Regions from separate parts of the Homo sapiens genome. Here regions 1 and 2 are each linked to region 3. The links come from fine-mapping of genetic effects on gene expression. A gene starts in region 3. Each other region holds a variant in brackets. All regions are shown on one strand. Distances are from middle to middle.

Region 1 (8,063 bases), 79 kb before region 3:
ATTGGTTTCACCCTTGCTACGTCTTATATGTGGAGTTTTCATGTTCCAGAATTATTTGGATTTCCACTTAACATTGGCGGCTGTGACCATGTTGCCTGGTGAGCAAGCCCGGATGAGACACGTTAGACCGTGGGTTCCTCCCTTTGTTGGAAAGGCTGCGGCGGCCCCCACTGGCTGCCTTGTGCCTCGTTGCCCCTCTGCTGGGGCTGAGCTTCCTGTCAGTCTGGGGCCTGCCCACTCCAGCTTCTCTGGGGGTCATGTGTGCCCAACCTGAGGCAACTGTAGGCAGAACTCCGGGTGGGCTGACTGGCCCTGGGCATCTAGAAACACAGGGACCTGTGGGTGTGAGTGTGTTGGGTGGGAGGGGTGAGGTGGCATGAGGGCTGTGCTGCGGGGATCTGGGAGGTGCTTGGCAGTGGGTTCTAGATCACCGGTGTGGAGCAGGCCAGGACGGGAACTCCTCCCATGAGTCCAGGAGGCCTTGACTTGGGCAGGGGAGGTGTAGGGCCTAGGGCTGTGCTGTCCCATATGGGAGGCACTGGTCACATGGGAGCATTTAAATTATCACCTAAATCAGTCAGAAGTAAATAAAATTAAAGATTCCATTCCTCAGTCACACTAGCCACATTCCAAGTGCCTACTAGTCACATGTGGCTAGTGGCTCCCTTTACACAGTGCAGAGACAGATCATCTCAGTCAGAGCAGAAAGTTTTGCACAGCAGTGCTCTAAACAGGACCTTCTGAAAGGAGGTGGCCTCTTGGATCACTAGCCGGTCTGTGCAGACCTGTGTTGGTGTTGCACAGAGGCTGTGGCTGGCCCATAGCACAGGACAGATTAGCAGCAAAACCAGTACTGGAGCTGGGCTCCACCAGAGACTTGAAGTGCTTCTTCAGTCTTCCTAGCCCTACCTGTTACCTGGCTGGTCCAGCAGGGCCCCCTGCTGACAGGTGCCCCAGAGGGAGACCTGGCAGGAGTGGTAGGCCCAGGACATGCTTTTGCAGACCCAGGCTGGAGCTCTTCCAGAACTTCTGCTCTGATTTTCCTCCAAGAGCAGATGGGGGCCCTGCAGCGGGTTTTTACCACTTGTCCATGGCTGTATTTGACAGAGAACACCTGCCTTCCTAATCCTTGCCTTTTACAATTTATTATTACATAAATATGTGTTTCCAGCAAACAAAATTCACAGTATGGAGGCATGGAAGGTGAAAATAGAAAGTCTTTTTGCTCCATCCCAATCACCATCCGCTTCCCGGGGGTGGAGGGGCGGGGGGGTAAATTCATTGTGCTCTTCACATGGGCACCCACAAACGGGAGCTGCAGTGCACACTGCTGTCTGCTTAACAGTGTGTTGGTGACATCTTTCCGTATTGCACCTGCGAAACTGCCACATTCAGCTGCATAATATTCCCTAGCATGACTGTATTGTAATTTATTTAAATGACATTTAAGTAGTGTGCAGCTATTTTGCAGCTAAAATTAATGCTGCAATGATGTACATACACTGTTGTGTGTCTCTACAAAATAAAGTCCTAGATAAGTAATTGTCAAGTCAAAAGGTGGGTACGTTTTTAATTTAGGAAGACAGTGCTGCATTGCTTTCCAGAAACGTTTCACAATTTACGATGAGAGGCCCACAAGATTTGTTTTCTGACTCAGCACTCCTCACACGGTGCTGCTGTGCTACTCTGGGAATGATTCTAACTTCAGGAAGTTTGGGGAGCAGGGAGCATTATAAACCCAGACGTGGGATAAGGAGAAAGCCTCTTTCTTTGGAAATGAAAGGCACAAATTCTTTACTAAATATTTGGAGAGGAGGAAATTGATGGGATCCTCGAGAAGTGGAAATTCCCCAGAATGGAAGCTTCCCCGTGTTCCGGGTACTGTCAGCTGACGCACGTGTCCAGGCTTTAGCTGGTTTGTTCTCCGATAGTTAACTGAGCACCTATGCACAGTGTCTATTAGGAAAGTCAAGTTTCTAACACAAGACGTGTGTGTATGCAGTGGTGTTGGTTTTTAAAAAAATCTATTTTTATCCTCAGATTGAGTCTTTGTTTGCAGGATTATGCTGGTTTGCCTCCCACCTGGGCTGCCCTGATCTTGTACTAATCACCATCTGGGTGTTACACTGGCAGGAGAGCTGTCCCACCCAGCACCTGGAATCAAGTCTGGATCCTACAGTGTGGGCGTAGACTGAGGAAGTACATATGTACATTCTGAAGACCCCACAGTTAGCATGAGCTCCAGAACAGTGTACTTTTAACTGGAGCTTGCTTCACTCATTGTTGCTGCTGGTTGGAAACAGGTGTTTCCTCATTACCTCTGCTAGCACGTCACTCAGGGGATGCGGGGATGCAGGGTACTTGTTGCACTCTTGGGGAGTCTGGAGCTCACCCAAGGACCTGTGACCTTTCTGCCTAATGGACGGGGGTGGGTAACCCTGGGGACATGGCACTTCTGTCTTGGCTGTGGGCCTGCTTTCTGCGGGGCCCTCTTTCCCCAGCCTGCTGATGCAAGCCAGTTTTACTCTGTGGCCAGAGAGACCATTGTGTCATGGCCCAGGAGAACCCACCCAACCTCCATGAGGTGGCAAACACTCAGAAACAGGCATTTCAGAGGCCCATTCTTGCCACGTTGTCAGATAAGTCCATGTGGGAAAAAGAGGCCACCTTTGGGAGGTAGGATTATGGGTAAATGTTAGTATCTTCCTTTCACCCTTCTGCATTTTCCAGTTTTTCTATAACTTTTTTTTTTTTATGGAGAAGAAACAACTCCATTATGTGTCTCTAAGTCAAATAAACAGGCCCTCATTATACCAAAGCTGATGGAACTCTCATCCTTCTGGGTGTTTTGAGGCAGCCCTGTGTCCTCTGAGGAGCAGCAAGGAACACGTTGCTCCTTTTGGGGTCTGGAATGAGGAAAGGTAGTGCCAGCTCTTCTGAGGCCTCCAGAAGGAGGCCAGTGCGTGTCCCAGCCCTAGCACACAGGCATCTGGGAGGCATTCATGAACTGAGGTAAGGTGGGAAGTTAAAGGCAGTTCCCACATTCTGGAGCCTGGCAGTGCCGTGGTGGGAGGGGGCCTGTGAGCTCTGTGTCGTGTGCAGTCTCGCTGAGCCCCCATTCTACCCCTACAATAGGAAATGTAACCTAAAATCCCAAGTCGTGTTCTGCAATCTAATGGGGCTGGGGTCACAGGTCAGGGGGTATGGGGAAGAGTTGTCAAGCCCCCAGGAAACGGTATTCAAGGTGTCTAGGGTAGCAGGGCCCTTAAACAATTTGACTTCGTGATGGGAACACCCCTTGCTCCCAGCTCCTCACCCACCCACCCACCCACGCCTGTCCTCCCCATGTGTAGCCTGCTTTGCTCCAAACCCAGCGCTGCTTAGCACAGCAGGTCTGACGCCACTGCTCTCCCCAGCCAGGTGTTTGTTCAGATGTGCAGTTTAGGAGGCTGGTTTCCATGCCTTTATCCCTCGTGCAATTCTCTAAGGTGGATTTGAATTTTTACCTGTTTGACAGAAGCAGAAAGCAAAGCTCAGACTTCCCAGAAGTCATGCACATGACCAGCAGATGGCAGAGCGGCCGGTGTGGGCAGCCCCTCCCGAGGCCCCCGCCCTGCCCGGCAGGTGCCCCTGTGCCCTTCTCGCCGGCAGTTGCACAGAGAGGTGTACACGGAGATCAAGTCAGATACTTTTTCTTTTGAACCTAACTCAGTTTCTCAGGGTCTGAAGCTCTGAAGAAAACTCTCTGGGGCTTATGACCCTTTATTCACTTTCTGTGGAAGTTCTTCAAACCCAACTTTTTCTTTTCTTCTTCTTTTTTTAAAGAAGAACAAAAACATCCCCTAGGGAAGCGAGCCAAGTATCAGTGTGAGAAGCTGCTAGATGACACTCTTCCAGAAATCTCTTTTCAGCCACTTGAAAACGTGTTGAGGCTGGGACTCCGGTCACTGCCCCCAGACGGCTGTGGTCAGACAGCCTGGGATTAAAAATCCCCTGCCGTTTTCTGCAGGCATTAGGTAGAGTCCTAATTGCTGTTTAAACTGTATTCTCCTTGGGCCAGCCTGTGTGCCTTGGGAAGGGCCTTGCCCAGAGGTCCTCCAGGAATTGTCGTTCTTTTAAAAA[T/C]ATTGTGATGTGGGTTTTTTTTAACTCCAGGTATAAAATTGGTTTTGTTGAAATTTGGAGGAAAAAACAAAACTTTAAAGAGGAAAACAGTTCTTCAATCTATAGGATATTTTAAATTCCATTAGATACCATTAAATATACCAGTCCCCAAGTTTGTAGCCGATTACGTTTTTCTCCAACTAAAGGAAAAGGACTGATTGAAAGGCCCTGAATTGGGTTGTTCTTGACATTATTTGTACTGAGCTCCATTGCCCTTAAAGCTGCGGATGTGACCGTTCGTGGCATTTGGGGTCAAGTGCAGCTGCGCCTCCTTGGCCTGCTTCCTGTCAGGAGCGCTGAGCAGCGCTTGGGCAAGGCCGGGCTCTGTGGCCTGAGCTGGGCCTGGAGTCCACTGTTTGTGCACTGCCCAGGGCCTGCCTCAGCTGTGGGCAGATGAGCAATGAGTGAGAGCAGGAGTCGCAGTTTGCCTCCAGGAGCATTTGGTAGATCTTCATTTCCTCCAGGGTCTCATAAAGCTCACTTCCCCCACAGGCTCAGGAGGAGCCTTCACGGCCACAGTCCAAGAACGAGCAGTTAGAGGCCAGCAGTGATGTTGGCCGGAGCTCCTCCCTAGAGAGCGTCTTGCGTCCCACCTCGGGGTGGGACCCTGAAGGGAGCCGGCTCCTCAGGTTGAGAGAGACAGAGATGCCCTTGGCTTTGGGTCAGCAGGAATGGGGAGCTTGTCCTCAGCCTCTGAATCTTGGTCTGCAGAGGCTGATGACTGCTTGCGTGGTGCTGGGCTTCCAGGAGGCATGTGGGAGCCCTTTCCTGGGGCCCCAGGGTCTTCACCTTCTTACAGCAGACCTGAGTTTGGGTCGGGTGACTGGGGACTACAGGGCGTGGAAGGCACGCCAAGATTGCGATCTGGCTTGGGCAGCCATGCTGGGTGCCTTGGTCTGCACTGTCTGGAGTCACCCCGTGCAGGCCCGGAGGCAGCAGCTATTCAGACTACATGTGTGTGTCTGAGGGAGGCACCCTCAGAACTGATCTGGACAATCTCTTAGGAAATGAGAGTTTTTGCCACTGGAGTTCTTCCCCAAGCCCTCAAGTCCATGCTGTTTCAGGTTCCATTGCCAGAGTCCCTGGGTTGACACCTGGGCCTCTCTCCCACCAGCTCAGCTTCCTGAATACTCGGGCCCAGATCCTGGTCCTGGGCTCTTAGGACCCAGCGGGGATAGGCTCTTAGGACCAGGGTCCAGGCCAGCTGGTCTGCCTGCTTCCAGCCGCATCCCCCTGGGCATCCTGAAATCTTTTTCTCAAATTCAAACGCTCCTTCCTAGGCATCGCTTGTTGCCTACAGAATAAAATCCAGATTCCCAGGGCCTATGAAGACTTGGACCTAGTCCAACCTCGGGTGCAAGTCTGACACGCTAGGGCCCAAAGCCCCTCACCGTGTCCTTACCCAGCTATGCTTGGCCCAATGCCTTAAAGCCTTTCTCGGCATTGCTGCCACAATTGTTCTCCAGGTCCCCCTTGTGTCACTCTTCTGCCTTATGGCCCTGTGTCCTCTGCCTCTGTTGGCCACAGCCCAACCTATAACTTAACTTTCCAGGCCCAGCAATTTACGAACTGCTGGGTATGCAGGTGGTACATACTTTGTGTCTAGAGACCACCTGGCCCTGCCTGCCCTGATCAGGGCTGCTGGGCACCTGTAGCAGCAGCTGGAGCTGAGCCGGAGCCTTTTGTGGGGCCCATCCCAGGGCCAAGGCGATAATCCCCTCCTATTAACCACCAGCTGCTGCCAGGGCTCAGGCGGCAGTTCCTGGAGTGGTTCTGATACCCTCCCCGTGGACTGAGAGAGCCAGGTGTGCACAGTGCAGGGGTGCTCCAGCAGCTGATGTGGGGGGCTGGCCGCTGAGTCTCATGAGGCCACTTAGGGCTGAGATCCTCCTTCTATGCCTGAGCCCTGGCCATGGGGGATCCTGGAAATTATACAGAGAGAAAAGCCTCATCCAAGGACGCCACAGTTGACAGTGAGAGAGAACACTAAGTGCCTCTTTGCCAGATGAGTTTAATTTTAGGTGCCTGAGCCTCCCAGTGTGGTCGCAGAAGGGAGAGTCATTTTGAAATTTGGGGTGTGAGGTGCGTTATCTGAGCTGCTGTGAGCTGCTTGAAGGCCGGCCATGCTGATTTATTTTGCTGTGCGTTACCCTGCGCCAGGCATGGTTCCAAGCACGTTGCAACTTACTCTTTTCAGCCACGCTGTGAGGGGAACAATGATCATCCCCGTTTTGTAGGCAAGGAAACAGAAGCAAAGGAAGGTTAAGCCACTTGTCCAAGGACAAAGGTGGGAAGGAGCTGAGCTGGGATTCGACTCCAGGCCACCTGGTCCCAGAGGCCTTGCTCTGACCTTGGTGCCCCACTGCCCAAGGACAGAGGTGACCTGCAGACTGGACGTGGCCCACGGATGTGTTTGTTCATCTGTACAGTGGTTTCATTCATTTATTTGTTTTTTATTGAGTTAGCTGTCAGCAGTAAAGATGAGAAGATAGCACTTAAAAATCTCGTTTCCAGGCTCTTGGGCAGGCCTGTGGCTTTGAGGGTTCTGGCTCAGATTCCCCCATTGCAGCTATCACCTGGAGGTGAAGTGCCGTGCCCAGGACCACCCAGCTCAGGAGAGGCCACCCCCCTGAGCCCAGGCCTGTGTGGTTATTTGTCACAGTACCTGTCCCATTCCTGCAGGGCCTGGCCCCTGGGGTGTTGCTGTGTCCCCTGCCAGACAGAGGTCTGGATTATCCATCAAAGTGAGACACTGGCCTGCGTCTCTACTCTTGGGTCTCCTGCTCCCTGGTCACTCCCCAGGCCTCCTGGCCTGTCCCTTCCTGGTATTTCATACCCACCAAGATGGGCAAAGCGTTAGCCGCAGGAGCAAGCCCTCAGGGAGCTGAGCTTTTCCAGCATTCACTGCACCCTGGGCCTTTTGAAGTCTGTGATTTCACAGACTAGGTGTTGAGTCTGAGAGACTTAGTTTAGTGCGTTAAGATTTCACAATTCGGAAGATTACTGGTATCTTCGAGTATTTGCTGGAGCCCTAAGTGATGTGCTGGGCACGCCTTAGGCTCCCGTTAGTACGTTATTTAAATGCAACTCATCTGGAGGCCCAGAAATCCTGCCTCTGCTTCTGAGGGCTTTCCTTTTTTCTTTCAGTTGTGCTGCCCTTGATTTGGGGACAATTGAGACAGCAGAGTTTTTACCTAAAAGATTTAATGAAAAATGATTTGTAAAGTTATAGCTCTCTAAAAACAGTATAAAAGGTAGTGTTTGTATGAGTGTGGCAAAGGCTGTGGAAGTTTCTGGGGGGCCATGAGAGGTGGCAGAGGAGAGCGTTAACATTTTGCTGTACGCAGCTTTGCGTTTGTTTCGCGTGTTGCAAGTTTTTATTTTTCTGTTAAAATATCTAATAGAATGGAATTACGTTAGAAAGTTTTAATAAAGATTTATGAGAATGCCGCTCCGAGAACACTCTCGGGAGCACTCTGTGGACTGAGCCTGCGGCGGGTGAGCATGTGGCCATGCTGCCCCTGTGCAGGAAGCGGCGTCCTAGAGCGCGTGCCCTCCAGCTGCCTTATCCAGATGTTTCCCCACCCAGCAGTGCAGTAGGGGCCGTGGGGCCTGGAAGGGTGGTCTTTAAGGAGAGAGTTCAAGAGAGGCCAGAGCTCTTGGGTCACTCTGGAACCTCTGTAGGACCAGGGGCTGCCAGGAATTCAGCAGGGGGCACTTTGGGGGTCCCTGGTTCTGGAAAGGAATAGGCCAGCCAGTCCAGGAGAAACAGAATGTGAGCCACACACGTGTGAGCCATGGATGTGATGTAAATGTCCTCAGCCACATTTAAAAAGGCCAGCAAGAAACAAATGGACTGAATGTTAACGATACATTTTGTTTGACCCAGTTTATCCAAAATG
Region 2 (8,063 bases), 64 kb after region 3:
CCTCTGGACACAGAAACCCTCATTGTAGACTTGGTGTTTGATTTTGCATGGCTTCGAGTCAATGTGCTCTGTGTCAGAATGCATGGCTCTTGAGCAGTCAGGCCTTTGTGAAACAATTTGAATATTTTTGAATAGACGTGGAAAGGCAGGTCAGGAGAGAGGGACCTGCTTGGCAGAGTGTGGAGAGGTCAGAGGATTTCCTTCTAGCCATTCCCTGGAGCGTCACTTCCCTTTCACCCACTGGGGCTGATGGCTCCTGCTTTGTGCTGCGCTGACATCCGAGCACAGCGTATGGCTCGCGGCTCCAACCAGCCTTCATTTTCTTCGAGAGTGTGCATTCCAGGTTTTCCCTTTCACAGAAGGGAAAACAGAGGCTTTGAGAGTCAAATCCTTTTCTAGAGTCTCTTAGTAGGTTCATGGCACAGCCAGGTCTAAGCTCTGGTCTCCTGGTACTTGGTCCCGGCATGTCACACTCCCAAGGAGGTTCAGACTTTGAAGACAAAGCAAAAGGCATTGATGGCTGTGCTGTGGGCCTGGCTTAGTCTTCTCAGGCTACTATAACAGGACACTACAGATGGGAGGGCCGACAGGCAGACATTTACTTCTCACTGTCCTGGGTGCTGGAAGTCCAAGATCAAGATGCCAGCAGAATTGGTGTCTGGTGAGGGCTCTCTTTCTGGCTTGAAGACGGCTGCCTTCTTGCTGTGTCTCACGTGACAGACAGACAGGGGGTGGGGGTGGGGGCTCTGGTGTCTCTTCTTGTTCTTACAAAGACCCTAATCACATGATGGGGCCCCCCATCCTCATGACCTCATCTAACCCTAACACCTTCCAAAGGTCTCCTAAAACCTTCATCTTGGGAGTTAGTTAGGGCTTCAACACAGAATTCAGGGGGACACGGATATTCCGTCCATACCAGGGCCCCGCACCTTCTCTGCCCTTTTCCTCTCTGCATGTCCCATGAGTCTGACTCTGGCCTTCTCTGTGCAGGAGAAGCTCCTGACGGAGCGGGAGGTGGCCGCCCTGCGGAGTCAGCTGGAGGAGGGCCGGGAGGTGCTCTCCCACCTGCAGGCGCAGAGAGTGGAGCTGCAGGCACAGGTACGCTCGAGTCTGCCGCGTGTGCATTGGGGCTTCCCACATGTTTCATGGAGGTGTTACGCGCAGGCACACGCATGCAGCTTGAGGAGCTGTCACACGCTGAACATATCCTATGTTCCTGGCAGAAACGGGGTTTTCTGAGTGGGTGGCCAAGCGCTCTGCTCTGGCCTGGACTGAGGAGTTTTCCAGGACACAGGGAGAGTCCTGAGCTGGGGGACACAGGTGCCACGCTCATTCCTGGCCCCTCAGAGGTGCCCCTTGGGACTCCTTCGAGTCATGCCCTCCCCACCGAGTCTTAGGCTTAGGCTGCCCCAGTGTCTACATCATGCATTCATTTTGCCCAGGTCAAGCTTCGTAAGAATAAGAAGAAACGGACACCATAGGGATTTTTATCCTCCACTTGTTCAAATCTGTGCTTCTGTTTTCCTTCTCATGGTAACAGTTCTCCTTCGGAATTTGATTACAACCCGGCAAGAGTGGTTGTATCAGTGTTTGCTTCTAGTTAGAAACGTGTTGGTGGAAAGCTCACATTTCTACCCCCACCCCTTTTGGGTGAAGCTTAATTTGAAAACAAAACAGAAAAGCCCCAAACTGTCCTGTGGCCTGTGCCTTCTTGGCTACTTGCCGGCTCATCTTCTTTGTTCCTTCCGGTTCTCTCTCTTTCTCATTACCCTACAGCAGGTCATTCCACAGGGACGCTTGGGTTAAAATACTGCACCTTTGTATGGCTCTCTAACCACATTTCCCAAACCAAAAAGTAAGTTGACATTTGGTTTGACAAGTACACATGGGGACAAGAGAGCAAAACGTGTAAAAATCGGACACTTCAGAAAGCCTGGACCATTTGGATGTTATGTGTTACTCTGTCTAAAAATGTGAAGCCACAACTAGATGTAGCGCTTTTTATTGATTTCCAGTGCCCCCATGTCTGCTCAGGATTTCATTTTGGGACCTTGGAGTTCACATCCTAATTCCCATCCCAGCACGCACCACACAAAACTCACAGTGCAGCAGCTCTCAGGGGCTGCTGGAAAGCAAACCCGGGTCTGTGGTGGTCCCCTGAACTGACGATCGCAGCAGGAGGAACCAAGTAAGGCACTTAAAACTCCTCCTTCTTGTGAGACAAACCCTGGCTCAGGGACCATGTGCCTCATCCTGGTGACTGGGGCCTGTGTGGTTTCTTCTGAGGCTCTGACAGGATAGAATAAGGGTTGTATGTGTTTGTGTACATGGGGTGTGTGTGTGTGATATACATGGTATGTGTGATATATGTGGGATGTGTATGTGAAGTGTGTGTGGTGTGTGTGTGTCATGTGTATGTGTGTGTGCTGTGTATGTGAATAGGGACGTGGATACAAGCCCAGTCGTGGTCCTAGAGACCAGTGTTTTCCAAATGGCTAGTGACAACTCATTTTTGGATGTAAAATGAACTCAGTAGAATTGACTGGCATGTAAAAGGAAGTCAACAAAATGCTAGACTAAAATATAATAAGAAAAACAGAGTGTACAGCAAGTGAAAGGGAGGATTTGTTTTGTGAAGCCCTTGTTTTATCTCTCTATATCCATATGGATATGTTGAAATACACACACACACACACACACACACACACACACACCTACCTATCTGATGTGTATGGCTCGCAATGAGAAATGTGGTTTTTCCTGGGGCGGTGGTGATAAAGTTGAAAACCACTGCCCTAGAGATACTGAGAAAGATGAAGGAGCCCAGCCTAGATGGCAAATTCCAGTTCCAGGACAAAAAGAATGTTCCTCTCTTTATGTACAGGTATTTGTTGAATATCAAAATAAGAAATTTCACAACAGATTAACCTGGTTTCTGAGAACATGAAATGAAACCGCTGGTTGGCCGCCTGTTTCTGTCCTGAGTGGCTGCAGGAGGACTTCCTGGCTTTTCCCTGCTGCCCTCGTCTCTAAAGCAGGGTCTCAAACATCTCTTCTGTGCTGCCTCCTCCACTCCCACCCGTGGCATTCTGATGGAGACCGCTTCTCAGAAAAATGATGGTAAAGGCATAAAATAAAATACAGATAATTTAAAGGAAACCAGGCTGGGTGTGGTGGCTCACGCCTGTAATGCCAGCACTTTGGGAGGGCAAGGTGAGTGGACTGCTCGAGTCCAGGAATTTGAGACCAGCCTGGGCCACATGACGAAACCCCACCTCTACAAAAAATACAAAAATTAGCTGGGCGTGGTGGTGCGTGCCTGTGGTTCCAGCTACTTAGGAAGCTGACATGGGAGGACTGCCTGAGCCTGGAGAGGTTGAGGCTGCAGTGAGCTGAGACTGAGCCACTGCACTCCAGCCTGGGCAACAGAATGAGACCCCGTTTCCAAAAAAAAAAAAAAAGAAACTAATTATATTAAAACAGTTATCAAAATATTACTGAATCATTTTAAATAAAATGACAGATGTGCTTATACTCACTCAGTAACAAGCTATAGCATGTAGCTGATGAAACACGGCTGTGTCCATTTTCTGTTGCTGCCTTGATGAGTCACCACCAGCACCCGTGTCATCGCAGTTGTGTAGGTGGGAAGTCTGGGTGGGTCCTATCGGTTTCTCTGCTCTGGGTCTCAAAAGGTAGAAAGAAAGATGTTGGCCAGCCTGGGCCCTTGTCCAGAGGCTGTTAGGGGAGAATTTGCTTCCAGTCTCATTCAAGTTCTTGGCAGGAGTGAGGACCCTGTTTCTTTGCCGGCTGCTGGCCAGGAGTGGCTGTCAGGGCTGCCCAGGCTCCTTGGCTTCAGGCCCCTCCACGTTCGGAGCCGGCAGCGAACTCTGAACCCTCTTCCTGCGTCTCATCTCAATGACTTGGACTTACACGTTTCTCTGACTTCTGTTTTTAGGGGATAATCTTGAATAAACTCCTTTCCTTAAAAAAGGGTAACTGATTAAGAACTTTAATTATATCTGCAAAGTCCCTTTTTGCCATGTAACATATTCAAGGGTGTAGCACCAAGGGGAAAAGGTCACGGGGGCCAAAATTCTGCCTCCTTAGCTCTGATGAAAACCCAGACGTGGCTGGGTGCGCCCGGGAGCTCCTGACTCAGTGGGTCTGGGGTGTGGCCCGGGATGCTGCATGTCTAGGTGTCCCTGTGATGGTGCTGCGGCTGGTCCAGGAGCCACACTGAGAACCACAGGGTAAGGGCGGGTCCCAGGGAGTGGGCGAATGTTCCACCTGGTCCCCCTGTGTCCCAGGCTTGGGCCTCATTTCAAATGTTTGTGGC[T/A]GGGTTTTTGCTGGTTTTAAAGGTTTTAGTGGCTTCCCAATGTAGCAGCTAAGCTAGAGCTGAAGGAAGATGTGGCCGCACACCGCCGGGCAGGGCCCGCTCTGTGGCCGGAACTCGGTGGAGGGCGGGCCGAGAGAGAGCGTCTGCTAGCACCAGGGCCGTGGCAGCGGGTTCCGCCTATGGTTAGGGCGTCCGAAGCTTCCCGAACTCTCCACAGCAGGGGTCGTCAGGGTGAGGTCCCCGTCCCAGCAGCGGGGGCACCACCTGGGAACTTGTCAGAAATGCAGATTCACAGGCACCCCAGACCACTGACCCAGGAGCTCTGGGGCGGGCCGGTGCGCCTTGTTTAAGCCCTCCACGTGGCTCTGCGGGCTCAGTCTGGGAGACGCTGGGCGGACGATGGGAGAATAGTGCCTGGGCTTGGAGCTGGAAGCTGGAAGCCTCTCCTTCAAATAAGTGCACATATACCCGTAAGAGCCCCGGAGGAAGCACTTCGGACAGGTGGAGAGGAAAGGACAGGTAATTCTAGTTCCCTAAATTGCATGGACTGAGAGTTTCTGTGACAGGGAAGTAAAGAAAGTCACTTTTTAAAATTGCAAAGTGGGAACCGCCCATGTCTCATTTCTCATTAAAGTCACTTAGCACCATCTAGTGGTTTAGTTTGTGTAAGACAGTATGTAATGAGTTTCCTTTTTTTTTTTTTTAAGACAAAACAAAAACAAAAACAAAAACAAAAAAAAAACCTTACACCTAAAGGTGTCTGGGGTCCTAAGGACTGAGGTGAGAGCTCACCCCTCCAGATGGGGCTCGCGTCAGGCTCCTGCCTGTGTCGTGCCCTCAGCGGCTCACAGCCCAGTGGGGAGACAGATATAAACCAGGCAATCTAACGGTCCAGGCAGAAACAGCAGTCACCTGGCTCCGGATAAAGTTCAGGTTGCCACATGGCCCCACCGTTGGAGGAACCCTGGGCCAACCTCTCTTCTCTTCGTCTCCTGACCCCTCCTGCAGTTTCTGGGACCTCCCCTTTGCTCATTCCTTCTCTCCTTTCTGGAAGTCCCTTTCCTTCCTCGGTTCCCAGGACCGGTCCTGCCTCCTCCTGGAAGCCCCTTTCTTCCTCTGAGATGCCCTGGGCGTGCCTCCCCTGCTGGACTGCGGCCTTCTAGAGGAGGGTCCGTGTCTCATTCTCCTCGGCCAGGCTGGTGCTGGGTGGCAGTGGACGCCGTGCCACAGTGGCTCTCGTCACAGGCATCTCCATTCCTGTTGAGCTCCTGAGACAGGAGCTCTTACTGGTTTTCCTGAACACTCTTCCTTCTGATGAAAGGTTTAAATTATGGAGCTGTAAAAACCACATCGGTATAGACATCAGTCCACTTTTATAAACCAAGTCATCACTTCACTGGACTCAGCAGAATCCCGTAGAGCATCTGCGACCAGTACGGAGTTGGAGGGCTCTGGGCCTCATGGTCATGTGGGGGATGGGGGCTGTGGGGGCGCCCAGGACAGGAGCTCCTCCCGCAGTGTTCCAGCAGAGGATCTCCAGCCTTTAAAACATGCAGCCTTCTTCAAACAAACACAAATGCACACCCAAGAAAACACCCCATCCCTCCACCCCCTACCACTACCACAAAAACAACAATCACCACTTCCTGAGACATAAAAAGATTGCACTCCACTTGTAGGGTAGAAAGATCACAGGTGACTTTCCTGGGCTCTCATTTCCCATTCTGTGATGCTTTGTGGTTCTATTTACAGTTTAAAACTTTGCTAAGTGAAAACCTGCAAGGAGAGGTCTCTGCATGGCTCACACTGACTTTCCCATGTCTTCAGAGAGAACAGGCTGGTGTTGGCCTGTTGCTGTGTGGGAATGGGGAGTTTGCAGGGGCCCTGGAGACAGAGTGTGTGTGTGTGCACGCACGTGTGTGCTTGCATATTGTTGCCTGCAGCAGGGAGGAGGCTGAGGTGCAGGGCAAGGGTGGCCTGGTTCTGGGAGGTGTTTCAGACCTTGTTCAGGTAGATTCGAATCCTGCTGTGGTATTTATGGGCAAGCCACTTTGCCAGTGTGCCCCAGTTTCCTCATCTGTAAAGTGGAAATAATGACAGCCCTTCCCTGATAAGGTTGTTGTGAGGTTGATGAGTTGACCCAGCTTAGGACTTATCAGCATGAGCCACTACCCCCGCTCTGGGCTGGGGAACCCACACCCAAAAGGAACGGCCACCCCAGAGCTCTTGGGTCAGTGATCTGGGGTACATTCTCTTCATATGTAATTTTTTCTTTTACTCTTTATTATGGAAGATTTCAAACATAGAAAAGTGAGAGATTATAGGTGCTATGGCTCACGCCTGTAATCCTAGTACTTTGGGAGGCCAAGGTGGGAGGATCACTTCAGCCCAGAAGTTCAAGACCAGCCTAGGCAACATAATTAGACCTTGTCTCTACAAAAAAAAATTTTTTTTTAATTGGCTGGGCATGGTGGCATTCACCTGTGGTCTCAGCTACTGAGGAGACAAAGGTGTGGGGACCACTTGAGCCCAGGATGTGGAGGCTTCAGGGAGTCCTGATGGCAGCACTGCACTCCAGCCTGGGCAATAGAGTGAGACCCTGCCTGTCTCAAAAATTAAAAGTGAGAATAGTCTGTCTCATGAGCCCTCCCGCCCCATCCCTCAACACATGGCCCCTCTATGTTCTCTACAGCCCCACACACTTCCCTCACCATGTAATTCCAACACTTCTTTGAGATTTGGGGCTCAAAGGGGTCTTTTCAATCCCCATATTCCTTGAAAGTGTTTCCTGGAGTGTCTGAACACTCTGGTGTGGGTGAGATGTGGCTGCACCAGGCGTTAGTGTGTCTGACTTGTATTTGCTATTACAGGCGACTGTTTGAATCCAGATTTCTTGGGAGAAACAGAAACTGGATCACACTAGCTGAAACAGGAAGGGGACTCTTGTTTTATTCAGAAGTAATTTTAGATTTTTGAAAAGTTGCAAAAACAGCACAGTAGCTTCCAATATATACCCCTCACCCAACTTCCACAAAACCACGGGCCGATGATAAAAACCTGGAAATTAACAGTGATCCTGTCGCATTAATAGACTGCACTAAAATCTCACCAGTTGCTCCACGCGTGTTTTTTCCTGGTCGAGATCCTACTCACATTTAGGTGTCATGTCTTGATTGTCTCCCCCATACTGGGATGGTCCCCAGTCTTTCTCTGTCTTCCATGACCGTGATGCTTTGGAAGAACCCAGACCAGTGGCTTTGTGGCATGTCTCTCCTTTTGGGTTTCCCTGATGTTTTCTCAGGATTAGATGGAGGTTCTGCATTCTTGGCAAGACCCCCATGGAGTGACGCTGTGTCCTGAGTATTTCGTTATGTGGCTGTGTCCTCATACAGGTGACAATAACTCTGATCACTTGGTTAAGGTGCTGTCTGCCAGTTTTCTCCACCGGAAAGGTACTATTTTTTTTTTTTTCCAAAGGAGCAGGGTATAAAAGGCAGGGCATGAAATCTGAGAGCAGGTGTGCATCAGGAATCAGGAACCAGGAACTGGGAGCTGAGGCAGCCGCTCTCCGTCTCCTTTTCCATCTCTTCCTTCTCTTGCCATGGCTCCCTAATTTCTGTTTGTCTTTGCCTTTCGGCTTCATTTCTTTTCCTCTCCAAATAATTACCTTTCTCAACTTTGCCATGCACATGAAAGCTCGCCACTCCAGAGCGGCAGCCTCAGA
Region 3 (8,063 bases):
GGCACATGCCAGCATGCCCAGTTAATTTTTATTTAATTTTTTTGTTCAGACAAGGTCTCACTATATTGTCCAGGCTGGTCTCCAACTCCTGGCTTCAAGCAATCCTCCTGCCTCAACCTCCCAACGTGCTGGGATGACAGGTATAGGCCACTGTATCCAGCTGATTTTTTTTTTTTTTTTTTTACTGCTACATTTACTTTATGGCTCTGCAAATAAGCTTAGGTGAAGATGGTAAGTATTTACAGAATGGCCAGGTTTGCAGGATGCAGCATGCGTGTAAAAACCTAAGATGCAATAAACATATGAAAAGAGTCAGCTCACTAGTAATCAAAGAAATGCAAAATAAAATAATGAGAAACCATTTCACAACCATCAGACTGGCAAAGGTTTCAAGTCTCTTATTAAGTGGTGAAAGGCAATGTAGAAACAAGCTGTTAATGATGAGATACAACCAGAACGAACCAGTAGTAGAGTAGAAAATATGTATGCTCCAATCCAGGGCTTCCGCTTCTAGATATACACCATGGAGAGATACACACTGGGGCTAGAGAAGTAATATATAGCAATATATGACATGGAAATTGCCTATTATAAAAACTTTAAATAGACCAAAAAAAGGCAAAAAATTAGGAAATGGCTGAATGTCTATCAACAGGGGAATGGATAAACTTGCACAATCATACAAAAGAACACAATTCAGCAGTTGAAGAACCAAAGCTACAAATAAATCCAAAAGCTGCCCTCCCCTGGGAAAAAAAAAACCACCCCCACAAAGTTTAATTTTTTCTCACAGAGCTGCAAAAGGATACATGAAGCACAGTATTTACGTAAGTTTTAAAAGCACATCAAGGCAATACATATGAATGATTAAGTAGCTAAAAGTATGGAACTATCAATGAATATCAATTTCAGGTGACTACTGTGAACTTTACCTGAGCTCTGTGTTCTCAGAAAGCAGTGATGGTTAATCCACCCCACCGTTTTGTGTTCTGGGAAACAGGTAACTGCAAAGAACTGGCCTGTTGCATATTTTCAAATAAGGCAATCAGGAATGCTCTCCTAATTGCAATAGCCTGAATAAAATCATCTCCTTAACCAGCCAGGATATTATGTCTTTGACACAGGAATGGTTATAACTCTAGGGAGGGAAGGGAGTGGGATGAGGAAGATGATGCATATTTAGCTGTAATGATAACATAAAAACCTGAAATATGGCAATAAGATAGCCCTGTTTTTCCTGTACAAAAGGATCTGTTATTCTGTGTACTTTTCTGCTTAAAATGTTTCAAAATTATTATTTTAAAACTTGGAGTTGGAAAAGGTGATTTGTCTCAAGTCAATTAATCCTTTACAATCTGTTTTCTCATATGTTAAATAGGCATGTGAATACATGCCCAACCTATTTCACTGGGTTGTAGTGTTTTTGCTAATCACCAAGTATTAGAATACTTGAATACTGCGCCAATTAGTTCAGTCTGTGAGACCACAGTCCAGATTAGGATAAGGTTAAGGGTTAGATTATCGTGCAAACCTTTTAACTCTACTTCAGGGGCAAGACTACACTCTTACTTTCCAAGAAGCATAAAAGATACTCTGGTTACAAGAGGAGCTAGGCAAGTCTAGGTGTGATGTCTCAATCCATATCCAGTAGAACTACTGAGCAAATAACCTTAGTAACTTGATGATGGGCTACTAAACAATCTCTGTATAAGGAGGCTGGCACACCCAGTACACACACACACACGTTTTGTTTGGGGTCTGTAATTGTGGTTCACGTGGAGGCAGACGTTGTTTGTTTTTTGTTGGAGGAGACATCTGAAAACATCTAATCTCATCCTGAAGCGCCCAGCTGGTTTCAAACTGCTTTATTTCAGGTGCTTCTAAAAGACTTGGTGAGTACAAGGAAGTGATTCTGCTAATTTAGAACAAACCCATCGGTAGTTAAAATTTAATCTTAAAAGAAACTTGGAACCAAGCATCTAACCAAAAGAGCTAAAAGCAAAGTGCTAGACTCTGGGATAATACCCACAATATTCTCTAATCACTGAACTAAACAAAGATGCTCCTGCGCTCATAAGGCTAAAAACAAAAATAACCTTTAAAAATGGGGGGTCTATAATCTGAACTCTAAGAGTAACTTGTAAGGTCTTCTTGATCTCCCTAAAGCCAACAATTTTGAAGCGTATTTGGAAATCGCTCATTTCTAATTTTTATTTCTCCCACTCCTCACAAGAACCAGGAAATATAACAGACCCTTCCTTCCTTGAATTTAGTTAAGCTTTAACTAAAACTAAGCATTTAACTAAAGGTAAAATGTTTGGTCTCTTATTTTCAAACAGAAAAATAAAGTCTGTATTAGCCACTCAATAAAAAAGCATAATGTCAAATCAGAAGTCTCTAGAGCAGACCCTAGTCAGCTTCAAAGCACTTTCACAGAGTGAATGGTCTTAAGCGTACCATAACTCAAAGCCCCTAGATTAAGTCTTTCAGTATAAAGTAGCATATACATTTAAAATGTTATTAAATTTCTAATAATTAGATATTAAAAAGACTCAAGATGCTGATACTTTGTAGCTTACAGCATTAAACCAAAGAAGAACCAAAAACTGAACAGTATCAAATCCCTATTACATACATATCTACAGTCATCAAGAAACTACCGGTTTATCTTTTCTTTCACTAAGGGGCCGCCTGCATGTTCACGGAAGTTGTAGTAACTTAAGAAAACCAAAACTGTTATACAGTGAAAACAGTTTGTATGCAGATAAGCTGGTACCAACTGCTTCTAGACAGATGCAATTACAGTGTAATATTTCTAGCAAAGTCTGGTAAGGCTACGCCTGCAAATCACTGACCAAAAATGGTAACAGTGTGTGCACACTAACGAAAACGACAAAATGTTCCAACTGATAGTTCAGTTGAGAATACGTTTTTAAATAGCTAATTAGAGTGACAGTGTAAAGGGGGAAAATATGTAAATTAAGCAAAATGTCCATCATATAGAATATACTAATGAGCACCTGTTTACTTTCTGGTGACTCCAGTATTTTAATGGTTTTTAAAGCTCTTAAATTTGGTTGTATCAGCATCCCAGCATCATGCCCACACCTTGCGCACCAAGTTCTGGCAGAGTCCAACTGTCTACAGGTCAGAAAAAAAATTCTAACCATACACGGACAGATCGGGCAGGGAAGGGTTAAAACAGACACTGCCAAGCTTGACAAGCACGACGAGAGTGCTGCTGGAAGCCGATTGCCAGATAAAAAGAAAAAAACAAAGGAGCTGCAAGGCCACCCCGTTCTAAATCATGCCAGGATCCTGCTCGTTAGCGATCATTCCGTGCTCTAGGACTGTTCCATAAAGGCTTTATCTTCCTTATTGAGATGGACAGACCTCAAGGGCTGGAACGCGCACAAGTCACCAAGCGCCTCAGCGCCAGCTCTGGGGAAACCCACGCCAACAAGGACGGTGGCCGGATTCCGACGCCCCCCGCCCCCCACTCCCCGGCCTCGGTGTGCAGACCCCCGGATGGATTTCACAGAGCGGGTGGGGGCGCTCGACCCCAGCCAGTTGTTGCAAGGCCGGGTCTGGAGACACCCGCAGAGGCCACGCTCAGGGCGGCGGCCTCGCCCCAGCTGGGAGCTGCGCAACAGCCGCGGATCCACCCCGGGGCGCGGGGGCCCAGCCAGGACGGCGGGAGACGGAGGCCCAGAGACCCCCCCTCACCCGCAGCCCGGACACTGCAGCCGGACCGGGTCCCTCCCCGGGCTGAGGCACGGCTCACCCCCTTAGCCCCGACTCCGCGGCGCCCCAGAGACACACTGCTCCCGGCCGCCTCGGCCCACGCCTCGGCCTCCCTCCTACTCACCATCTTCGCCGCGGCGGTCGCAGGGACGCGGGGGAGGGAGCCGGCGGGCAGCGAGTATGCAGACCGTCCTCCTCACGGCTGCGGGACCGAGAGACCCAGCGCTGAGCTGACGCGGCGGCGCGAGCTTACCCCGGGGCGGGCGCGCCTCAGGACGGAACGCGGCTGCGCACGTCACGCACCGCCTGCCGTTGCTACGCAACCAGCCGGCCAGGCAACGCCCCCCCGGCGGCTATCCAGAGTCTCGGAGGGGAGCTTCCCTCATCTGCTGAAGGCTGCGGGGCAGGGTCCGCCTCACCAGAAAGTGTTTAGGGGTGGGGGTGCGTCCTCTCTGGTCTGCAGGAGGCTAGAAGGCGGACTGGGCTGGCTCCTGCTGGCGAGGGGCGGGCAAAAGATGATGGGGGAGGGGTGGCCTTCCTTCGCCTCCTCGGCGGGGCCACCTGACGCCCCACCCACTGTGCAGGCATGGCCCGCGCGGGGAGGCAGCCACCTGGCCAGGTGTGCCTGCCGCTGGGGCGGGGCGAGGCCGTGGAGGGGAAAAGGAGGGGAGAGCCGGGGGAGAGGGGTACAGAGTGTGGGAAGGAGGGGGATTTGGAGGGGAGAGGCGAGGGGCACATAGTTGGGGGAGGAGGAGGATGGAGAGGGGAGGGAAGAGGTGAGGGAGAGGGGACAGTGTGGGGAGAGGAGGGGGATGTGGGGGGAGGGGCGAGGGGGCACTTAGTGGGGGAGGTGGGGGCAAGGGGAGAGGTGAGGGAGAGGGACACAGTGGTGGAAGGAGAGAGATGTTGGGGGTTGGGAGGGCAGGGCCCGAGGAGGGGGAACGCACTGGGGGAGGACCCACGGGAGCGGAGTCGCGGGCCGCGGCAGCGGGGACGCCTCCCGCATTTTTTACCTACTTTGGTGCGATTCCCGCCGCCCTCCCCTGATTGGCCCAGTCTGGCTTGTCCTGCCCTCGCGTGAGGGGAAAAAAGTCTGCACATTTTTCCTCCTTCCCGAGGCGACCGTGGCCATGCAGAGTGCTCTGTGAGTCACCGTTAATTTCAGGTCTGGAAAAACAAGGAGCATTTATTTATCTTTGGGAACTGCCGGGGAAGGAGGCCGGCGGCGCGCAGGGGTGTGGCTGGGAAAGGCCGCGCTGTCCCGGGACGGTGGCGCCAGCCCCGCCGCTCAGTTCTCCGGGTTTTTAATTTGGAATTGTGTTTTTCTAATGGGCGGTTGCGTCGGAAACACGGTTTTCAGAGGGCCCAGATGAATCCCAGCGTTTTTGCTGCGGGTGTTTTTGTGGGAAATAAAGGGAACAAAGAATTTTATAAATTAATTTAGGTTACCGAGAACATCATGGCCTCGACCAAAACTATTTTAATTCTCCAAATATGAGACTTTTGGACAAGATGGTCAGTATTTTTTTTTCCGGCACTACGTAAAATCTAGGTTGTATGTGGCTTTTGTTCTGCCCCACTCAACATAGGAACCCATTTCTCATTACCCTCGTTCTTTTTAAAAAAGACAGTAAGTTGTGCAGTTCTAAGCCTTTACCACCTGAGACATGATTTTTGGCGGGCTAGAGCAGTGGTTCTTTAGCATGCATCAGAATCACCTGGAAAAGTTGTTCAAAGCTAGATTTGTGTGCCCCATCCCCAAGGTTCCCTCACTGCTTCTAAGATGATGCTTGAGAATGGGCATTTCTAACAACTCCTAGGTGATGCTGAAGATGCCAGTCCGAGACCACACTCCTGAACTGAGAAGGAACCCCCCTGTATCCTCCTGCAGCTGGAACCCTTTGCTTTTCTGCCTGCCTAGGACCCTGTGGCCCTTACACTTCTTAATATTCAGACTTCCTTTCTAGTCCAAAAGTGAATGGTGCTCATTTAAGGATACATGCCTGCCTGCTTGCTCCAGCCTCTCCTGCATTTCGTCCTCCACTCTGCCACCAGAGTTAGGTCCAAACATAAGACTGGTCTTGTTACATTCTTGCTTAAAATTTGCTGTGGCTTCCTCCATAACCCTCAGCAGGTCAGTCTGGCCCGTCTGCCTCTGGCCTCAGCCTACTTTTTCTGCCCTATCTCCCATATCTTCCTAAGTGCCCACTGCCCCTCCCAGACGAAACTTCTCATTCCAGAACACCTCTTACTAGTTCTAACTACCTTGATCATGGGCCTGCTTATTTTTTCAGCCTGGGATGTTCCTATCACCCTTCGCATCTGAAGACTTCTCTTACCACTTCCCAAGGATCAATAGTAGTTCCTTCTTTTTTTTTTTTTCGTGCCCCGTACCCCTTACAACTCCTTCACCCCCCTAGTTCCTTCTATAATCCCAGAGTTCATCACTTCTCAAATCTTTTTTTTTTTTTTTTGAGACTGAGTTTCACTCTTGTTGCCCAGACTGTAGTGCAATGGTGCGATCTCGGGTCACTGCAACCTCCGCCTCTCGGGTTCAAGCGATTCTCCTGCCTCAACCTCCCGAGTAGCTGGGATTACAGGCATGCGCCACCACACCCGGCTAATTTTGTATTTTTAGTAGAGATAAGGTTTCTCCGTGTTGGTCAGGCTGGTCTTGAACTCCCGACCTCAGGTGATCTGGCCACCTTGGCCTCCCAAAGTGCTGAGATTACAGGCCTTAGACACCGAGCGCCCGGCCACCTCTCAAATCTTAATAAAGATCCAAATCACCTGAGATCCTTGTTAAACTGCAGATTCCGGGGTTGAGGGGTGGAGTCTTAGATGGCCCCAGGAGATGCAGATGCTATACTTTGAGTTAGGAGGTTTCATGGTTTTTTCCCTACAATTACTGTAGCTCTGTAATTATTTATGTGCATTTTCCATTACTACCAGATAGCTGGGAGTTCCTTGAGGTCATGGGGTATTTAAGATGCGTATGTATGAACTGGCATAGCCCCTGATACATAGTAGGTGTTTAATAAGTATTGAATAAGTGAACCAGTATCTGAAGATGTTTTACAATTTATCAAACTTATATATCAGTTTATCATAACTTAAGATGAGCCCCCATTTTTTTTAGGTCCCACTGAACTTCAGCCTCTGCATTTAACACCCAGCTTTTCTAGACATTGACATTCCTCCTCTCCACACGGAGGGAAAGAGTTTTCATACAATGCTATAGACTAATAAAGATTTATGCCCTCCGGAAGCTGAAAGGTAATCCCCAATGTGATGGTATTTGAAGTTGGGGCCTTTGGACAGCGATTAGGCCATGAGAGCAGAGCCCCCTTTAATAGGATTAGTGCCCTTATAAAAGAGGTCCTAGGCCGGGCACCGTGGCTCACACCTGTAATCCCAGCACTTTAGGGGGCTGAGGCAGGTGGATCACGAGGTCAGGAGTTCAAGACCAGGCTGGCCAAGATGGTGAAACCCCGTCTCTACTAAAAATACAAAAATCAGCCAGGCGTGGTGGCAGGCACCTGTAATCTCAGCTATTCAGGAGGCTGAGGCAGGGAATTGCTTGAACCCAGGAGGCAGGGGCTGCAGTGAGCTGAGATCGTGCCACTGCACTCCATCCTGGGCAACAGAGCGAGACTGTGTCTCAAAAAAAAAGAGGTCCTAGACTACTGCTTGCCACTTCCACCATTGTGAGAACACAGCAAAAAGGTTCATCTATGAACCAGGAAGTGGGCTCTCACCAGACACTGAATCTGCTGGTGACTTGATCTTGGACTTCACAGCCTCCAGAACTATGAGAAGTAAATTGCTGTTGTTTGTAAGCCACCCAGTTTATGGTATTCTGCTATAGCAGCCTGAACAGACTAAGACACATAAGGTCTCTCCTTAAATATGAGATTGGTATATTTCAATTTCGTTTAGAAAACATTTTGCATACTTAATCTGTGAACATATAGGCACTTGAATTTAAAACCATTAATATAAGCGGCAGGGAAGAAGAAATGATACATTAACGAGGAGCCTGAAGAGAGATGTGTATTAATAGATAGGCTGGGGAAAGCTCCTTTGCTGGGAGACATAACACTGTCAATATACAGCATAGAAAAAAACTTTTAACTCCTCCCTCTCCACAAATTCACCTATTTCCTATCTCCTATCCCTATTTATGTCAGTAGTCTTTTTTTTTTTTTTTTTTTTTTTGAGACGGAGTCTTGCTCTGTCACCCAGGCTGGAGTACAGTGGCAGGATGTCAGCTCACTGCAACCTCCGCCTCCTGAGTTCAAGCGATTATCTTGCCTCAG

The links. PIP is the estimated chance that this variant, and not a neighbour inherited with it, causes the effect.
Region 1: its variant is fine-mapped to the expression of DSTN in whole blood (INTERVAL, PIP above 0.99).
Region 2: its variant is fine-mapped to the expression of DSTN in whole blood (TOPMed, PIP above 0.99).

What each region holds. Positions count from the first base shown.
Region 1 is chr20:17,644,854-17,652,916 of GRCh38, reverse strand. All of the region lies in intron 3 of RRBP1 (ribosome binding protein 1), which reads left to right. Among named protein-coding and RNA genes, the nearest start is that of RRBP1, 33 kb to the left of the region's middle. RefSeq lists silencers at 862-941, 3,553-3,682, 4,332-4,421 and enhancers at 3,834-4,537, 4,602-4,691. The variant T/C (reference allele first, on the strand shown) is at 4,123.
Region 2 is chr20:17,501,924-17,509,986 of GRCh38, reverse strand. BFSP1 (beaded filament structural protein 1) reads left to right here. Exons shown (of 8, transcript NM_001195.5): 5 at 991-1,098. Among named protein-coding and RNA genes, the nearest start is that of BFSP1, 25 kb to the left of the region's middle. RefSeq lists an enhancer at 4,952-5,475. The variant T/A (reference allele first, on the strand shown) is at 4,340.
Region 3 is chr20:17,566,017-17,574,079 of GRCh38, reverse strand. It overlaps DSTN (destrin, actin depolymerizing factor), which reads right to left and starts at 4,005. Exons shown (of 4, transcript NM_006870.4): 1 at 3,869-4,005. The coding sequence starts at 3,871. It also overlaps a transcript of BFSP1 not described here. RefSeq lists silencers at 3,565-3,854, 3,875-4,064 and an enhancer at 4,475-5,042.